4 separate regions of the Homo sapiens genome follow, and regions 1, 2 and 4 are each linked to region 3. Evidence: fine-mapped expression QTL. A gene starts in region 3. Each other region holds a variant in brackets. All regions are shown on one strand. Distances are between the middles of the regions.

The links. PIP is the estimated chance that this variant, and not a neighbour inherited with it, causes the effect. A credible set is the group of variants that fine-mapping cannot tell apart.
Region 1: its variant is the best candidate, but not a certain one, in a credible set for the expression of PDE8A in whole blood (INTERVAL, PIP 0.83).
Region 2: its variant is the best candidate, but not a certain one, in a credible set for the expression of PDE8A in memory regulatory T cells (Schmiedel 2018, PIP 0.77).
Region 4: its variant is the best candidate, but not a certain one, in a credible set for the expression of PDE8A in fibroblasts (GTEx, PIP 0.81).

The regions. Positions count from the first base shown.
Region 1 is chr15:85,124,231-85,128,230 of GRCh38, forward strand. It overlaps PDE8A (phosphodiesterase 8A), which reads left to right. Exons shown (of 22, transcript NM_002605.3): 20 at 1,977-2,144. Among named protein-coding and RNA genes, the nearest start is that of PDE8A, 140 kb to the left of the region's middle. RefSeq lists an enhancer at 800-1,350. The variant C/T (reference allele first, on the strand shown) is at 2,440.
Region 2 is chr15:85,102,635-85,106,634 of GRCh38, forward strand. All of the region lies in intron 11 of PDE8A (phosphodiesterase 8A), which reads left to right. Among named protein-coding and RNA genes, the nearest start is that of PDE8A, 120 kb to the left of the region's middle. The variant A/C (reference allele first, on the strand shown) is at 1,514.
Region 3 is chr15:84,979,729-84,983,980 of GRCh38, forward strand. PDE8A (phosphodiesterase 8A) reads left to right here and starts at 2,128. Exons shown (of 22, transcript NM_002605.3): 1 at 2,128-2,620. The coding sequence starts at 2,435. RefSeq lists enhancers at 1-127, 128-627, 1,777-2,309 and silencers at 580-629, 1,190-1,239, 1,560-2,049.
Region 4 is chr15:85,066,050-85,070,049 of GRCh38, forward strand. It overlaps PDE8A (phosphodiesterase 8A), which reads left to right. Exons shown (of 22, transcript NM_002605.3): 3 at 965-1,155. Among named protein-coding and RNA genes, the nearest start is that of PDE8A, 86 kb to the left of the region's middle. The variant G/T (reference allele first, on the strand shown) is at 2,411.

The sequences.
Region 1 (4,000 bases), 140 kb after region 3:
ATTTGCTTATCTGTAGAATGGGGATAAGAAGTCTCAAGGCATAGGACTGATGAGCATGGTACATGGTAGGCACTTAAGAACTGGTGCCTATTATACTAGATTCATTGTGTCATCAGCAACTTAAAGAATATGTTCTTTCATGAACCTCTTCCTTTGAGGCCCACATTTACTGAACATGTTGGCAGCAGCTCACAGTCTTCTCTCCCACCCTCCTCCCCAGCTCCTATCACCATCCTGAGATATTTGCCACACACAGGGATGACTTATCCTCGCAGGCTAGGATCATAATTCCTTGACTTCTAACTCCATTTTACTTCTGCAATTCATTTGTTTGGCCATGGCCTTTGTCTGCCCCCTGGTTTTCTAGCATATTACCCCATGACACTTACTTTGGTTTAACCTGATGTTGAGAACTGTTTCTTCACCCTTTCCTGTTCTCTCAATTTGTCAGCCTGCCCCTGACTTCACTCTCTTTCCAAAGACTTTTAACAGAGGTGCCTGTACCAGCCTGTTTTATTGGCTCCTGCCCTGCCATTCTGGATAGGGCTCATTGTCACCTGGCCACCACTCCTGGCTGACCTCATGCCACAGAAGGAAACCATACACCCAGCAGACTTGGTTTCCTCTGTCTAGTCTGGACAGCCCCTAGAGCTGAGTTCTCTGCTCCACTTAACATTATGGTTCTCATCTCTGTTGTCGGTACATGGGGTTACTTCTGAGAGACTGAAAATCAATATCCAGTGGGTCAGAGCAGGAGAAAGGAAGATGAAAGAGAATAGTTTCCAGGCTGGCAGTATGAAACTATAGTCACACTGCAGGTATTAACGGATCTGAAGAAAGAAGGGTCAGCACAGAGCTGGTCACAGTGGAAACCTGGAGTGAGGAGAGCTACTGAAGTGTCACCGGTGTAGTATTCATTTTGGCACTCTCCAGGAAGTGTGGGAAGCCTAGAGTCAGGATGCCACCCGTCCATCTTGATGGCAGTCTGTTCCCTCTGAGCTGGGACCATCAGGGCTTCTTAGGCTACTGCTATTGCATATTGAAATATATGACTAACTCCTTTGGAATGTTGCTTGATGGGCACAGAATCAGACTGAGGAGACCTGCTTGCCTTTAGTCTTTTTCATTGCTCTCTGCCCCAATACCCTCTAACCTGAATTCTCTTCAGAGAGCCTACAAATAGTGGTTCTATTACATCATAAATTGATCCATATCCAGTGGGGATCCTTGGATGCAGACAGCATGTGGTACTGTGAGTGGAAGGCATGCTGGGACTAAAGGCAGAACTGAAGTTCTTATCCTGGCTCGGCTGGTTGCTTTGGACAAGTCACTTCACCTCCCTGAGTCTCAGTGTCCTCATTTGTAAAATGTAATAAATAATACTTTTCATGCTTACCATTAGATCTTCTTGTGAGTGCAGATCAACAGAGAATGACTGTTAAGTCCTTTATCCATCAAATATGTTAGGTGTTATCTTGGGAATCTGCCCTATCACAGGACTGGGTTGAGAAGTACGGAGGCTGTTGGGCTGCAAGAGCCCATTTGTTGTGAGGGCAGAGAAATTTATTTTTTTCAGCTCATACTCTTTTTTAATAAATATAATAAAAGACAAAACCAGTCTTTGAGTTCTTACCAAGGGGGAGAGAGAGAGTGGAACAGAAAAAAAGGCAACTGTGAGAAAGATTTAGTGAGAGGAAGAGAAGAAAGAGGCAAGGAAAAGGGGAAGGGCAGATATACCAACCCCTAGTGCTACCCTCCACTTCTAGGTCCTGTTGCAATCTCACTGAGCCTCGGTTTTCTCCTGGGTAAAATGAGAGGCCAAGCTCAATGCTCACAGTATCCTTGGCACTGTTTTGTGAGATCCTTATAGATCCTGACTAGTGCTCTTTTTATGCTTACAGTGGGACAGACCAGTAAGAGAGGGCTTGGCACCAAGGGATCCATTTTGATTGCTTTGAATTCCACTCATGTTTCAGGAAACTGATAAAAACCAGGAAGTGATAAACACTATGCTTAGGACTCCAGAGAACCGGACCCTAATCAAACGAATGCTGATTAAATGTGCTGATGTGTCCAATCCCTGCCGACCCCTGCAGTACTGCATCGAGTGGGCTGCACGCATTTCGGAAGAATATTTTTCTCAGGTAAGTTGCTGCCTCTTTTAAGTTTCTAGAGAGAGAGAGAGTTAAAACCCATAAAATCATACGAGATAATGGACTTAACACTAGGAAATAGGGTTCTAAAAAAATTCTGTCCTTGTTTTGCAAGGTAACAAATGGTAACTGGTAACAAATTTTTTTTTTCTTAAGAATATTTTATTTTCCCTTTATTCTTGCAGGATATTTTTGTTAGATATAGCATCCTGGGTTGATGATTTTTTTCCTGAAAGTACTTTTAAGGAGTCATCTGGTCTTCATATTCTTTCTGAGTAGAAAAAAC[C/T]TCTCTTGGGGCAGAAAAAAATATTAGGAAATATACTGGCTAAGATTTTTCCAGATTTGGTGGAGGGCATATGCACATGCATATGCATACAGATTCAAGAAGCCCAGTGAACCTTAGCCCATGTCAGATGTGTCATAGTCAAGCAGCTAACAGGCTAAAGATAAATCTTGCAATCAGCCAGAGGAAAAGCGACACATTACTTATAAGAAAACAGTGATTCTCATGTCCTCTGACTTCCCATCAAAAACTATGAAGGCCAGAAGACACGGGAACATCTTTAAAGTGCTGTTAGCTTTGGGAGGATCACTTGAGCCCAGGAGTCTTAAGAGCAGCCTGGGCAACATGGTGAGACCTTGTCTCTACAAAAAAATTAAAAGTTAGCCGGGCATAGTGATGCACTCCTGTAGTCCCAAGCTACTTGGGAGGCTGAGGCAGGAGGATCGCTTGAAGCCCAGGAGGTTGAGGCTGCAGTGAGCCATGATCATGTCACTGCACTCCAACCTGAGCGACAAAGTGAGACCCTGTCTCAAAGAAAACATACAGCTAACATTATATTTAATGGCATGAGATATTGAATACATTCTTAAGATTGGAAACAAGGTAAGGGTGCCCATTCTTACCTCTTCTGTTCAACCTTGTATTGGTGTTCCTCATCATTGCAATAGACAAAGGAGAGAGAGGTTTAAAGAACAAAAAGTAAGACATACATTTGCTTCTGTTTGCAGATGACATGATTTTATGCAGAAAATTCTAAGGAATATACAAACAATTATTAGCACTAATAAGTGGATTTGATTTACCAATGTCATAGGACACAGCTCAATATACAAAAGTGAGTTGTATTTTATGTACTAGCAACCAACAATTGGAAAATGAAACCAAAAGCCCAGTCCCATTTACAGTAGGAAATAAAATTTAAAAATTAAAATTAGGAAAAAATTTAATAAGAGATGACCAGAACTTTACAGTGAAAACCATAAAACATTGCTGAAAATTTTAATGAACACTTGAATAAATGGTGAGGCATATCATGTTCACATACTGGAAGGCTCAGTGTTAACATTCACTTCTACCCAAATTGGTGTTTCAATTCAAAAATTTCAGCAGGTTTTTTTTCTGTGGAAGTCTACAGACTGTTTCTAAATTATATATGAAAATGAGAAGGACCTTGAATAAGCAAAGCAAACTTTAAAAAGTTGGAAGATATGCCCTGTTTGGCTTCAAAACTTAAAATAATCAAGAAAGTGTGGTGCTGGCATAAAGATAACAAGTACAACCATGGGACAGAATAGAAATCCAAGAAACAGATCACATTTATATGATCAGTGGCTAATGTGAAATTTTTGCAGTAAGTGGTGTTAGGATAATTGGATATTCCTATGCAAAAAAAAAAAAAAAAAAAAAGAACCACAACTCCTATCTCATACCATAGAGAAATTCATAGACCTACATACAACAGCTAAAACCATAAAGCTTTTAGAGAGAAACATACCAGAATATCCTCAATGACTTGAAAGTGGACAAAGATTTCTTAGATGCAGAAAGCAACAACCAGCCAGGT
Region 2 (4,000 bases), 120 kb after region 3:
GTTGAGAGCAGCCTGACCAACATGGAGAAACCTCGTCTCTACTAAAAATACAAAATTAGCCAGGCGTCGTGGCGCATGCCTGTCATCCCAGCTACTCAGGAGGCTGAGGCAGGAGAATCACTTGAACCCGGGAGGCTGAGGTTGTGGTGAGCCGAGATCGCGCCATTGTACTCCAGCCTGGGCTACAAGAGTGAAACTCCATCTCAAAAAAAAAAAAAAAAGAATACCACTGTAAAGTAGGTATGACTATTATTTATATTCCTTTATTACAGAGGAAGAAACTGAGGCTCAGAAAAGTTCAATGAGCCAGGTGTGGTGGCTCACACCTCTAATCCTAGCACTTTGGGAGGCCAAGGCAGGTGGATCGCTTGAGCCCAGGAGTTTGAGACCAGCCTAGGCAACATGGTGAAAACCTGTCTGTACCAAACATACAAAAAATTAGCCGGGTGTGGTGACACGCGCCAGTAGTCCCAGCTACAGGGGAGGCTGAGGCACGAGAATTGCTTGAACCTAGGAGGCAGAGGCTGCAGTGAGCTGAGATCGCGCCACTGCACTCCAGCCTGGGCGACAGCAAGACTCTGTCTAAAAAAAGAAAAAAGTTGAAAGACAGCCTAGAGTTGGGCAGCCGGGATATGGCAGAGCTGGGACTGAGAGGCAGAGTCAGTGATGCAGTCAGAGGAAATGTTCGGCAGGGGGAGCATCTCCCAAACTGCATTTGTACCAGGGCATTTGGTCGTTTTACTTGGTCACCGTTGACTTAGGAGTTTTACCCATCCCACCCAGGTGAGCCACTTGCCCATCCTACCTACCCCCTTAGCAGCATAACCACCTTTATGTCCAAAGGTCTCAACTGGCCATCTTCACTTGAGAAGGCAGGGTGGAGCTGTTATAGGCCATGGGCCAGCCAAAGTCCTTGGTTATACACAACAGAAATCAATTCTTCAGCAGAAAAGGAGTTTTTTCTGGAAGGAAATAGGGTTGCTTATAGATTGGACAACAAAGCTCTAGAACTAGTTTTGGAAAAGGAAGCAAGAACCTGGGGAAGCTGAGCAATTGTCCCCACTGCCGTAGGCATGCCATAGGAGCACTGTGCTTAGGGGGCCACTGCTGTCACTACTGAGCTTTGAGCACCACTGGCCCTGTTGAGATCTGGTTATAGGGTGTTGCTGTTCTCACCACGGGTAGCATAGCTTCTTCACACCTCGCTTCCTTACCTCACTCAAAAGCAGACTCTTGGAAGGAAGCACTCATTTGTCTGGGCCTGTGTCACCTACTCTGTCACTAACTGGGTATGGAGCAGTGGAGTCTCTGGCCTTCTCCCTCCCCTACTGAGAGGACTTAGTACTCCCAGACATGGGAAGGAAGGTTCAGGGTCTGGGCATCCAAAAGAGTAATAAAATCCCAATACATGCTCCCTTTTCCCTGGCCCATGTGTTGTTTTCACGTGACACTGTCTCACTGAGGACACCAAATTGTAGTGACAACTGTCCAGTCTATTGACTTGTTCTAGGTC[A/C]GGCCCTGAGCCTGACTGTAAGCATACAGAAATGAACATGAGTTTCGCTGTCTGGTGGCAGGAGAAAATAATTTGAATATGCTGTGGTTTGTAGTACCACACTGGAGAAAAGCTGGGGAATGCTTCCCAGCAATGATGATGATGATGGTTGACCTGGTGTCTGAAGAGAAGTAGGGGTCATGCAGAGGACAAGATGGGAGAAGCAGCACCCATAAAGGCATCGCGAAGCGAGGCTGGGGCAGGCCAGTTTGGATTCATCCTGTAGGCAGAGGAAGACCAAGGGAATCTTTATAAATAGGTAAATGGGAAAGGGTCAGGTCTTAGGAAGACAGTCATGGAGAAAAGAGATTGAAGACAAAGTAACTCCTGAATCCAGCCTCAGGAGCCCAATCAGAGACTGGATTCAGGAGTTACTTAAGTATAATCAGTAGGATTTGGGAACCAGCTTACTGTGTGGGATAAAGAGAAGACTTCAGAATGACACCAAGATATCTAGCTTGGCCACTGGATAACATTAGTTAAAATAACAAGTGCAAATAAGATCGTAAGAAAGAGCAGGTTTGTACAGGGAGTGGATAGTAAGTTTAGATTTGAACTTACCACATCTGAAGTGATAAGCCAAAACTTTTGGCCCTGGGCCAACTATTCTGAAGAGAGAAAGTGAGGCAGGAAGACTGAGTACCAAGAAAGGAGTCCAGCAATAATAGACGTGAATAATGGCCAGGGGAGCACTGAGGAGCAGGATGAATTCATTCATTCATCATTCATCCAAACTCAGTGCAGTTGTGTCTCTGCTTGCAAGATATGTTTCTATCTGGGGGTGAGGTAAACAGTAAGCAAATAAACATACAGTATATCAGATGGTGCTAAGTTCTGTGGAGAAGAATAAAGCCAGGGGATTGGGCATGCAGGGGATGAGGAGGTGGTCAGGACATGCCTTGCCAGTAATGTGACAGGCTCTGGTTCTTGTTCAGGTGGTATGGAATGGAACCCAGGCCTCATACTTTGCAGGTGTTCTCATGGGCTACCAGGGTTGGGGCCATTGTTAGAGGCCTCATAGATGATTGAAAAGAGTTGGGAGATTTGGTCTGTGCCTGGAGAAAGTGAGCTTTCTTGGGAGGAAGAGGTAGTTACCAGAGGCCCATGTGCAGAGAGTCCTGTGGGCTTGGCAGTTTGGAGGTGGCCCTGTTGCAGAGTAAGTGCTCTGCAAATGCTTGTTGATAGTGCCTGAGGAGATGTTCCGACAGTCAGCTGTGGTCCCGGCAGAATGACTTTTGGGCAAGTCACATAAAATACTGGGGTCTGGACTTCCTCATATCCAAACTGGAACTCATACTTCCAGGCTGCAGGGCTAATGCGAGTTGGAGGAAGCTGCTGTTTTTGAGGGGTACTGATTGGTTATCCTCTCTCATCACCCCCACTGTTTTTCCAGGGTTTCCTGGATTTACCCAGCAGGTCAAGGAAATGCTATTAATTTTTCTGTATTGAAAGGGTGGGCAGAGTTTATGGACCCTATTTTACAGAACAGGAAGCCAAGAGCAGAGACATGAAGTTGCAGGTGATCCTGAGCCCAAGCCCTGGCTATGGAGGCCTAGTTAGTGTTCTCTCCACTGGCAGGCCGGATACCTCAGGATGAGTATGTGTTTTCTGAGCACCCAGTAAGCATGAGGCCCTGGGCGCAGCACGCCTTCAGGAGCTGGTAGTCTCATTGGGATGTAAGCCTCACACTTCATCTTCAACCTCTTGGTGTTCCCTGAGGAGAGCTTCTGAGAGCTGGGTGCTGGGGTGACAGGGTGGAGACGTGGTCCATCTCTACCCACTGGGCGAAAATTGCTAGAATCATCTATAACGTGCTACAGGGACTAGGGGAGCAGTGAGCTTAGCAGGGCTTTTGGGAACAAGAGGATCTTGTATTTACATAAAGTAACTTTGAAACAGTCAAGTAGAAATTAAAGCCTGGTTAGTCTCCCTCCACTTTTCACAGTGCGTCCTTCATACACCCTCTGCTGCTTGCTCCTCTCCAGCCACACTGCTCCATCTGCACAAGCAGTTTCCTCCTCCTGGAAATGCTGTCGTCCTCCTCCTCATCTTGGCTGCAGCTACAAGACTCCATCCATCTCCTTTCTGCCCCCACTCCCTTGAGAATCTGCCACTTCCCCCTCCAGGCTCCTCCTGAACTTCAGAATTATTACTGTAACTCCTAGTTTACCCACCCTTTTCCCCACTGACCATCTCCTTTCGAGTTCATGGACTATACCTCATTCATTTTCACCTCCCTAATGCCTAGCTTAGGGCATCACACATGGTGGGTGAAGGTTTGTTGAGTGGAATAAAAGAGAGAAGAATGAAGGAACAAATAATCATAAGTTCTCAGTCCAGGCTCATCAGGTGGCTATGTGGACATTACTCATCATGAAGCTCAGAGGAAGGAGACACATTTCCAGCTCCATGTGGTTGAGAAGAGGGGAAATTTGAAGGAATGAACAC
Region 3 (4,252 bases):
ACCAGCTCAGGACAGCACAAGGCAGTCCGGGCAGTCAGCAAGGTGTGGGGCGGTGCACACGGGGCTTTTCAGGCCAGCTGATCCCCCAGCCCTAGTCCCCAACTCCTTCATTTAGTGCATGGCCCAAGGACCAACAAGGGAGGCGGGACGCCGAGGTCCTGCCTAGGAGGGGAGGGCCGAGAGGACTAGAGCTGCTTGGAGCCCCAGAAGCGGCAAGGTCAGCGCCGGGAGTCGTCAAGGCCGTACTTCTCTGCAGGGCGGGGAGGAGAGGTCGCGCTTTAAACTTCCATGAACTCTGTTGGTTCCAAGCATTTTCTCCATGAAGTATCCTTTATTTACAAGAGCTCCAGATTCTACCTGGAAAAAAGACCTCTTAAAATTGCAGAGCAAAGGCAGAAAAAAATTATACGATTTAGGCGGAATAAAGAGTGATGTTTAAAAATCTTTTCCTTTGTTTTTTAAGACATCTTCACCAAGCCAGTAGTACTTTTATAAGGCAGAGAAGCATAAATATTAATATTGCTTAATGGGCTTAAACTTGGTAATAGAGCCACGTGCCAGTGGTTCGGGGCAGTTTCGCCAGTAACGTGCTCTCGGGTTACCCTGCTCGGGCCAGAGATCGAGGCTCCGGGGACCCGGCACCTGAACCTGTGCTGCAGTCCCAGCGCGACAGCAGGGAATCCAGCCCGCAGCACGCCTCCGGGTCTTTGCAGTAGCCGGGCCAAGGCGGGAGCGGCTGCCTCTCAGGGTCGCTCCAGGGCCGCGCTAGGAAAGGTGTGGACGGTCGGAGAGGACAGGAAGGAGCCGGCTGCACCGCGCCAGGGTCTCCGCAAACCGGGAGCCCAGGGAGGGCGGGAAGACTGGCGGGGGTCCGAGGCAGCCCGCTACAGGATACGTGATGGACGCCCAGAGACACCGCCCTCCAGCTGGTGGGGGAGGAGCCCCAGCCACCAAGAAGTTAAGTGACTGGCCCAGTTCACACAGCAAGCTAGTGGCTGTGTGCGTGTCCGGGGTCCTCATGGGCCCCAGGCCTGCAATGCGTACGCCCCTTCCCCTGGCTCTGCCTTTGGGGTCTCGGACGCCCGACTAGCACTTTGGTTAAAATGAGAGGAGGACGGGCGCCTGCAGCCTGCCCGGTGCTGTAGCTTTGCGGCCGCCCCGGCGCCTGTGTAATCCGAGGCGTGGCGCGCCAGGTTTTGGCCTGCGAGGGAGCGCACGTGGGCTGCGGCTTCTCGCGGACGCCCAGGCCCCACCCACCCGGGACCCGGCGCGCGGCGCCCCAGTTTGACTTTCACTACCCCCAAAGGAGGTCTTTCCACCGGCCTCTTTTCTGGGTAACAGCTCCAGGGCTCACACTTGGTGACCCCACCGAGGTCAAGTAGCCGCTAAGTTACGGAGCCGGAATTCGAATTTGGCGGTCGGGCTTCTGGTGGCCTCGGGACGGAGGTGGCTGTGTGTCCCTGGGCAAGTCTCTTTCCTTCTCTGGGTAGCCCAGTCGGGCGCCCCGCCTGTCGTCGCCGCGCATGCTCAGTTGCGGGCGGCGTCCGGAGGAGGTGGCGGGCGCCCCAGCTGCTTTGCATTGACGCCAGCACCCGCTGGAGGTCACCGCTGGGGGCTCGGCGCGGCACGCTGCCGGCAAAACCCGGCCCGGATCACGGAGCCGGAGCCGGAGCCGTACCGCCAGCAACTCCTGGGTGCGCGCAGCCGTTTCTGCGCTTCTCGACGGTGCGGCCCCAGGCCCCGCTGGAGCCGAGCTGCTCCCCTCCCTACCCTGGCGGACGTGGCCCGGCCGCTCCGAGGGGTTTCCCTCGGACCCCGCGCCTAAACCCCGGCCAGCGGGAGCGTCTAAGGCTAGCCTTGTACCCCACCGGCACTCGGCCTGGGGGGGCTTTTCCGCGAGGCGGCGGCCCAGCGGGCGGAGCGGCGTGGGTGTCCACATCTAGGCGGAGTCTGGAGCCGGGGAGGCGGCGGCGGCGGCGGCGGGAGCGGGGCCGGGCGCGGCCGGGAGCTCGCCTCCCCCGGGGGTCGTGCCGCAGCTCGGCGAGGGCAGCGTGGCTCGCGCGGCGTGGACTCAGCCGCTCCTGGGTAAGGAGAGCGCAAATCTCCTCCCCCTATTTCCCCGGAAGCGCGGCCGAGGCGAGCCCGGCGATGTGAGAGGCGGCCGTCGGCTCCTGCCTCAGGAAGGGCATGTTCGGAGGGGCGGCCTCGGCACGCCACCCGCCTAAGCGCCCCCTTCCCACCGCAGCCGCCGCCGCCGCAGCGCCCGCACCGCGATAAAAGGGGCGGCCGCGTTTCCTGACGCGAGATCCGCGCTCGCCGCCGCCCGCCCAGGCGGCGATGACACGGCGCCCGCGGCGGCCCGGAGGCGCCGGGTGGGCCGTTTGCTGACCGGATCGCGGCTACCCGCCAGCGTGTCCGCGGCGCCGCCGCCAGCATGGGCTGTGCCCCGAGCATCCACATTTCCGAGCGCCTGGTGGCCGAGGACGCGCCTAGCCCCGCGGCACCGCCGCTGTCGTCCGGCGGGCCGCGCCTCCCGCAGGGCCAGAAGACGGCCGCCTTGCCCCGGACCCGCGGCGCCGGCCTCTTGGAGTCGGAGCTTCGCGACGGCAGCGGCAAGAAGGTAAGGGGCGCCGGGCACTCTGGGGCCGCCGCGAAACTCGGGCCCGGCCAGTAAGCAACTTTCCCGCAGGGGCCGGGCGGGGTCCCCCCCACCCGGCCTCGGTGCCCTCTTGTCCCGCTTTGGATGGTTCTGATTGACGCCAGTCTCCCGCCTTGCCGGGGCAGCGTTCAGAGAAGGACCGACCCAGGTCCCGCGACCCTGATTTCCTAGGGTTGCGATTAGGACGCCGCCTGTGTCGCGGCGTCGGTTTTTTGGACACATCCGACTCCCGGAGCGGCGGGGCCCGATGTGAAGTTGACTGAGGCGCTTGCATCAATTTCCTCTCCAAGAGCGGGTGTTTGAGGGAAACCCCCAGGATATTCTGGCGCGCCCCTGCAATGTTAAATCAGTGTGAACTTTGTTCTTTTCCTGTGGTAGAAAGGGAAGGGCGACTGGCCTCACCACTCTTTTCCCTCTGTCAGCTTTGCACATGCAGTTGCAGGTTACCATTTTCTTCGGGACTGCTAGAATGTAATCTGGAACATCAGCTTTGCTTCATTGCACATGTATTTGAGGTCCACGTTTATTAGCATACATACTGTATTTAAAGCATATGTAATTAGAAAATACTGTGAAACGCGATTTTTGAAGCATTCAGCAGAACAAAGTTAATCTTTTATTAAGCCGACTTACTGGGACATTTTGTGACTGGGGTTTTTTGTTTTTTTACATTGCGTGTCTTCTCCAGCGCATGTTGCCTTGGCTTATGTTTTGTCAAAGTTTCTGGGCTTAGTCTTTGTTGAGGTTTTCTAAAGGAAAGTTAAAAAGGAAAAAGAAAAACGTGATCATTAAGGCACACAGCAGCAGCTTTCCAGTTCTCTCATTTCAGAATTTAAAGCTGGAACTCATGCGTTGGTTTATGTTTTGTTAAACCAGTAAAAGACAACAACAACAAAATTCGTGCATGGCTGCAGATTGTTGGCTGTCATCCCTCTCATCACGACCAGTTTTTGAAAGAGTAATTTGCAAAATTTGTTTGATTTTTCCTTGCTTGCTGAGAACTGCTGAACCTCCGAAGTTTGAGGGATATAGTTTGATGTACTTTCTGTCTTACATTTCTAGCAGTCGTCATGATACTTTTTCTGTACGAAAGGGGAAAGTCTTTTTCAGTGTTGCATAACAGTTGATTTCCCCACCATTCCCATACCCTAAGTGAAAATTCAACTTTGTTCTGATTATCAGAAATTGAATTCCTTCTCCTATAGATTCTTTAAAGAAACCTCTGATGGTTTAGGCTTACTAACTCAAGGTGCTCTTAATATCAGTGTTAAGCTGTGTGTTAAGCCTACTTGGCTTTAAAAAAGTGTTACACAGGTGCATATGGAAACTTTAACAGCTTTCAAGTTTTCAGTCCAAATCTAACATTTTGCAGACTAATGTGATAATTTCAGATTACCAAAGTAGCCCTTTTATAGTGAGGGGCCTTTGTGTCTTACAGGCTTTTTTTGTGGTGGATTGGGTGTCCTAAAATTCACCTAGGTGTCTTGTAAGCCTCCCCAGTGCAGCAGCAGCTTGCTCTTGTGCTATCGCAGTGCCGTTAGGTCCCTGAGTTTTTAAGTACTTACTTCAACCATTCTTCTGTATTGGCAGACC
Region 4 (4,000 bases), 86 kb after region 3:
TTACATAAAATCTTGAGTCAAACATTTCAATACATTATTTATAGGATTAAGTATTCTAATAATTTCACCAAGATATTAGCATTCACCATCTGAGAACTTACCCAGTTAACTTTCTTTCAGCTAAAATAAATATTAATGTGTTTTAATTCTTTTAGTTTCAAGATAAAATGCTTAACTAAATCTTTGTTGAGTTCTGCCAGTGGGTTTCTTAGCAAAAAAGTAGGCATATGGCCAGGTGCAGTGGCTCACACCTGCAATCCCAGCACTTTGGGAGGCCACAGCAGGTGGATCACTTGAGTCCAGGAGTTCTAGACTAGCCTGGGCAACATGGAGGGACCCCATCTCTACTGAAAATACAAAAATTAGCCGGGCATGTGGTGGCGCACACCTGTAATCTCCCAGCCACTGGGGGCTCTGAGGTACAAGAACACTGGAACCCTGGAGGTGGAGGTTGCAGTGAGCTGACATCACACCACTGTACACCAGCCCATGCAACAGAGGAAGACCCTGTTGCCCACCCACCATCCCCCCAAAACACACACACACACACACACACACACACACACACACACACACACACACACACACACACAGAAATGACGATTCTGACCAGGCGCGGTGGCTCACGCCTGTAATCCCAACACTTTGGGAGGCTGAGGTGGGAGGATTACTTGAAGCCAGGAGTTCGAAATCAGCCTGGCCAACATGGCAAAACCCCGTCTCTACTAAAAATACAAAAATTAGCTGGGCATGGTGGCATGTGCCTGTGGCCCAACTACTCGGCAGGGCTGAGGTGGGAGAATCACTTGAACCTGGGAGGCAGAGGTTGCAGTGAGCCAAGATCATGCCATTACACTCCAGCCTGAGCAACAGAGCAAGACTCTGTCTCAAGAAAAAAAAAGTGTAAGAAATGACAATTCTAACATCTTTTTTTAAAAAAAGTGTTTGTGCTCTTTTGATTCAGGTACTTTTAGTGTTTACCAAAGAAGATAACCAATGTAATGGATTCTGCAGGGCATGTGAAAAAGCAGGGTTTAAGTGTACAGTTACCAAGGAGGCTCAGGCTGTCCTTGCCTGTTTCCTGGACAAACATCATGACATTATCATCATAGACCACAGAAATCCTCGACAGCTGGATGCAGAGGCACTGTGCAGGTAAGCCCAAGACTCGGGCCTAAATAGTCCCATTGGCCTTTCTGACAATACATGCAGCCTAGAAATAGATTAAATTAGACTCACTCTCTTTTAAGTTGCTTTCCATGCATGTGAAATAAACAAAATATTAGAACCTCACTATTTATAGGACTGATGCATATCTCTTTTGTTTTGTCTTGCTTCACTTTACTTGAAACAGTAAGAAAATGTGAATAATAAGAATTATTAAGGGTCAAAGTGAAACCCAAAATGTAATTAACCACAAGTATCACTTGTATATTAGTGCAGTAAGAATTATAATTTTTCAGATTGTTTTCAAAGTTTTAAAAATTTTGAAAATTGTCTTTTAATGTTCGATGAATGGGCTTTATTTATTATACTTGCACCTTGTCAATATTATGAGAGAATTCTCTGTAGTGACCTAAACCTAAAAAATGCCTTTTAAAGAAAGTTATTTGTTGCTGATGGAAGCAAGGCAAATATAAAATTTTATGACATATTAATTTTAAGGACATTTAAAATCTTGACTTTTAAGAGAGAGAAAAGATATAAGCTAAGTAGATTAAAAACCCATGGGTTAAAAACCGAGGTGACAAGCAAATGACAACATATTAAAAGATTATTTATGGGGTATGTGGTGACGTCAACATGGGTTTGTTTCCTTGGTGTTGAGAACTCTACACTCCTGGTAGTCAGACTAGGTAGCGTTTACCCTTCCATGACTTGCCTCCAGTAGTTTCTCCTGTGGCCTTGATCTAGTGCCTGAAATGTGCCTGTGTTCCTCATCTGTTTCAATCTGCATGACTTCACAATAAGCCATCATCATTGTAGCCCAGATTTCTTTTTTTTTTTCTTGTGACGGAGTCTCACTCTGTAACCCAGTCTGGAGTGCAAGGCTCGATCTCAGCTCACTGCAACCTCCACCTCCAGGGTTCAAGGGATTCTCCTGCCTCAGCCTCCCAAGTAGCTGGGATTACAGGCGCACACCACCATGCCTGGCTAATTTTGTATTTTTAATAGAGACGGTGTTTGACCATATTGGCCAGGCTGGTCTTGAACTCCTGACCCCAAGTGATCCATCTGCCTCAGCCTCCCAAAGTGCTGGGATTACAGGTGTGAGCCACCGCACTGTGCCCGCCCTACCCCAGATTTCTTGACATGTCATTTGGCCAGTCACCCAGCACATTCATGGGGGATTGCAGCCCAAAAGAAATGGAGAGAGCTCCGGCCAGGAAAAAGGGAGGTCCAGGTCCTT[G/T]TTTGGCTCTTCCTGGATAGCTGCTTGTCTCTGGGTAACTCTGCCTTCTCTGGGGATGTTTTAGCTCAGCTGTAAATTTGGAACACTTGGTTTCCAGTATCCCTTTTATCCCTAACATTGAATAGATACCACTCAGAGGAAGGGAAGATGATATCTAAATTACATGGTGCTTGGTAGTCATGGTGGAATGTTGCAAGGCAGTAGAGGTGTCTAAGGTGGGCCAAATGGCTGCCGAGATAGAAGAGGGAGGACAGGGTGAGGGGCTGGAGAAAATTTGGCCTCTTTCCTAGTCTTGTCCAGGCCCAAGCCTAGCCACAGGTATGTGCTAGGCAATGAAAGTTCATACTTTTAAAGGTGACTACTAGAGCATCTTGTATTGTAAAAGAAAATTTAAATTGTGTTGGTTACGCTCCACTGTTAAAAATTGTGGTAAAAGAAACATAACATTAACTTTATGTTCCACTTTTTAAGGGAAGAAAATGTACTATTGCTGTACATTTTAGGAATATTCTAAACAAATAGGGTTAATTCATTCAGCAGATTTTTATTGAGCTATGTACAAGAGAATGTTTTAGACTGAAAGTTATAAAATGAAGTTCTTGTCTTCTATGAGCTTATAGACTAGAGGAGCTGAAATATTTCAATGAAAAAAAGTAATGTTACGTGCTCAGTTAAAAACTCACACAAATACCAAATTCCATAAGCACTATAGTTAATCAGAGTTCTTTCGTCATGTAAATAACAATTTTATATAGTTTTAAAGTAAAGAATGGGAACTGGATTGCTTTAATATATGGTTTTAGAGAAGCAGAGAATGTCAGATGTGCCTCTCCTCTATGAAGTGCCTAGCACTCTCCATCCAGCCTCTCCTCAGGACCTGGGGCTCACTAAGTGAAACCCTGAGATTTAGAAGCTTTGCTTTATATTGAACCCAACTTTGTCCACAGTTGGCGCACAGGATTGCTAGAACAGAGCTATTATTCCTCTTCCCCAGAATGGACTTCCAACACTGGAGGACAGGAATTGTGTCCCCCCACCCCAGACATCTTTCCTTTTCTGAACTGAGCACACCCTTACTGCTATGAGTGGCTCCTAACAGATCCTGGTTTCATATTCCCACCACATCAAGGGTGCTTCCCCTGAGTACCCTTTTCTGATTGATAGACCTTGTAAGCATGGCTCCAGAACCGAAAAGCTCACACTAGGTTTAGGGGAACCAGTGACAAGTAAGCAGAACAGTCCCCTCCACTGTGCTAGCCAGAGAGAGCAGGCCTTTACAAATGTAATCCCCGATCACATTTATTTCCTGATGGCCACATCACAGCCTTGGTCAAGAATCTCAAGTGTTTCTCACAAGCTGTTTTCTACCACGTCATCTCCATCTTGTTGGGTGAGGATTTGGGGTAGGGATGGGTCCTTGTGCTAATCGTAGTGAGTTTTCTAGAGGCAAGAGCAGACCCTGATTTATTTTCCTAATCAGTTTTGTCTTCATTCTGGCCCTTACCTGGCTTATCTCCCTTAAGATCATCCCTTTAAGGATGCCCGCCCACTTTGGACTGTTCAAGAAATCTTTCCAGGCTCCCCACCCCC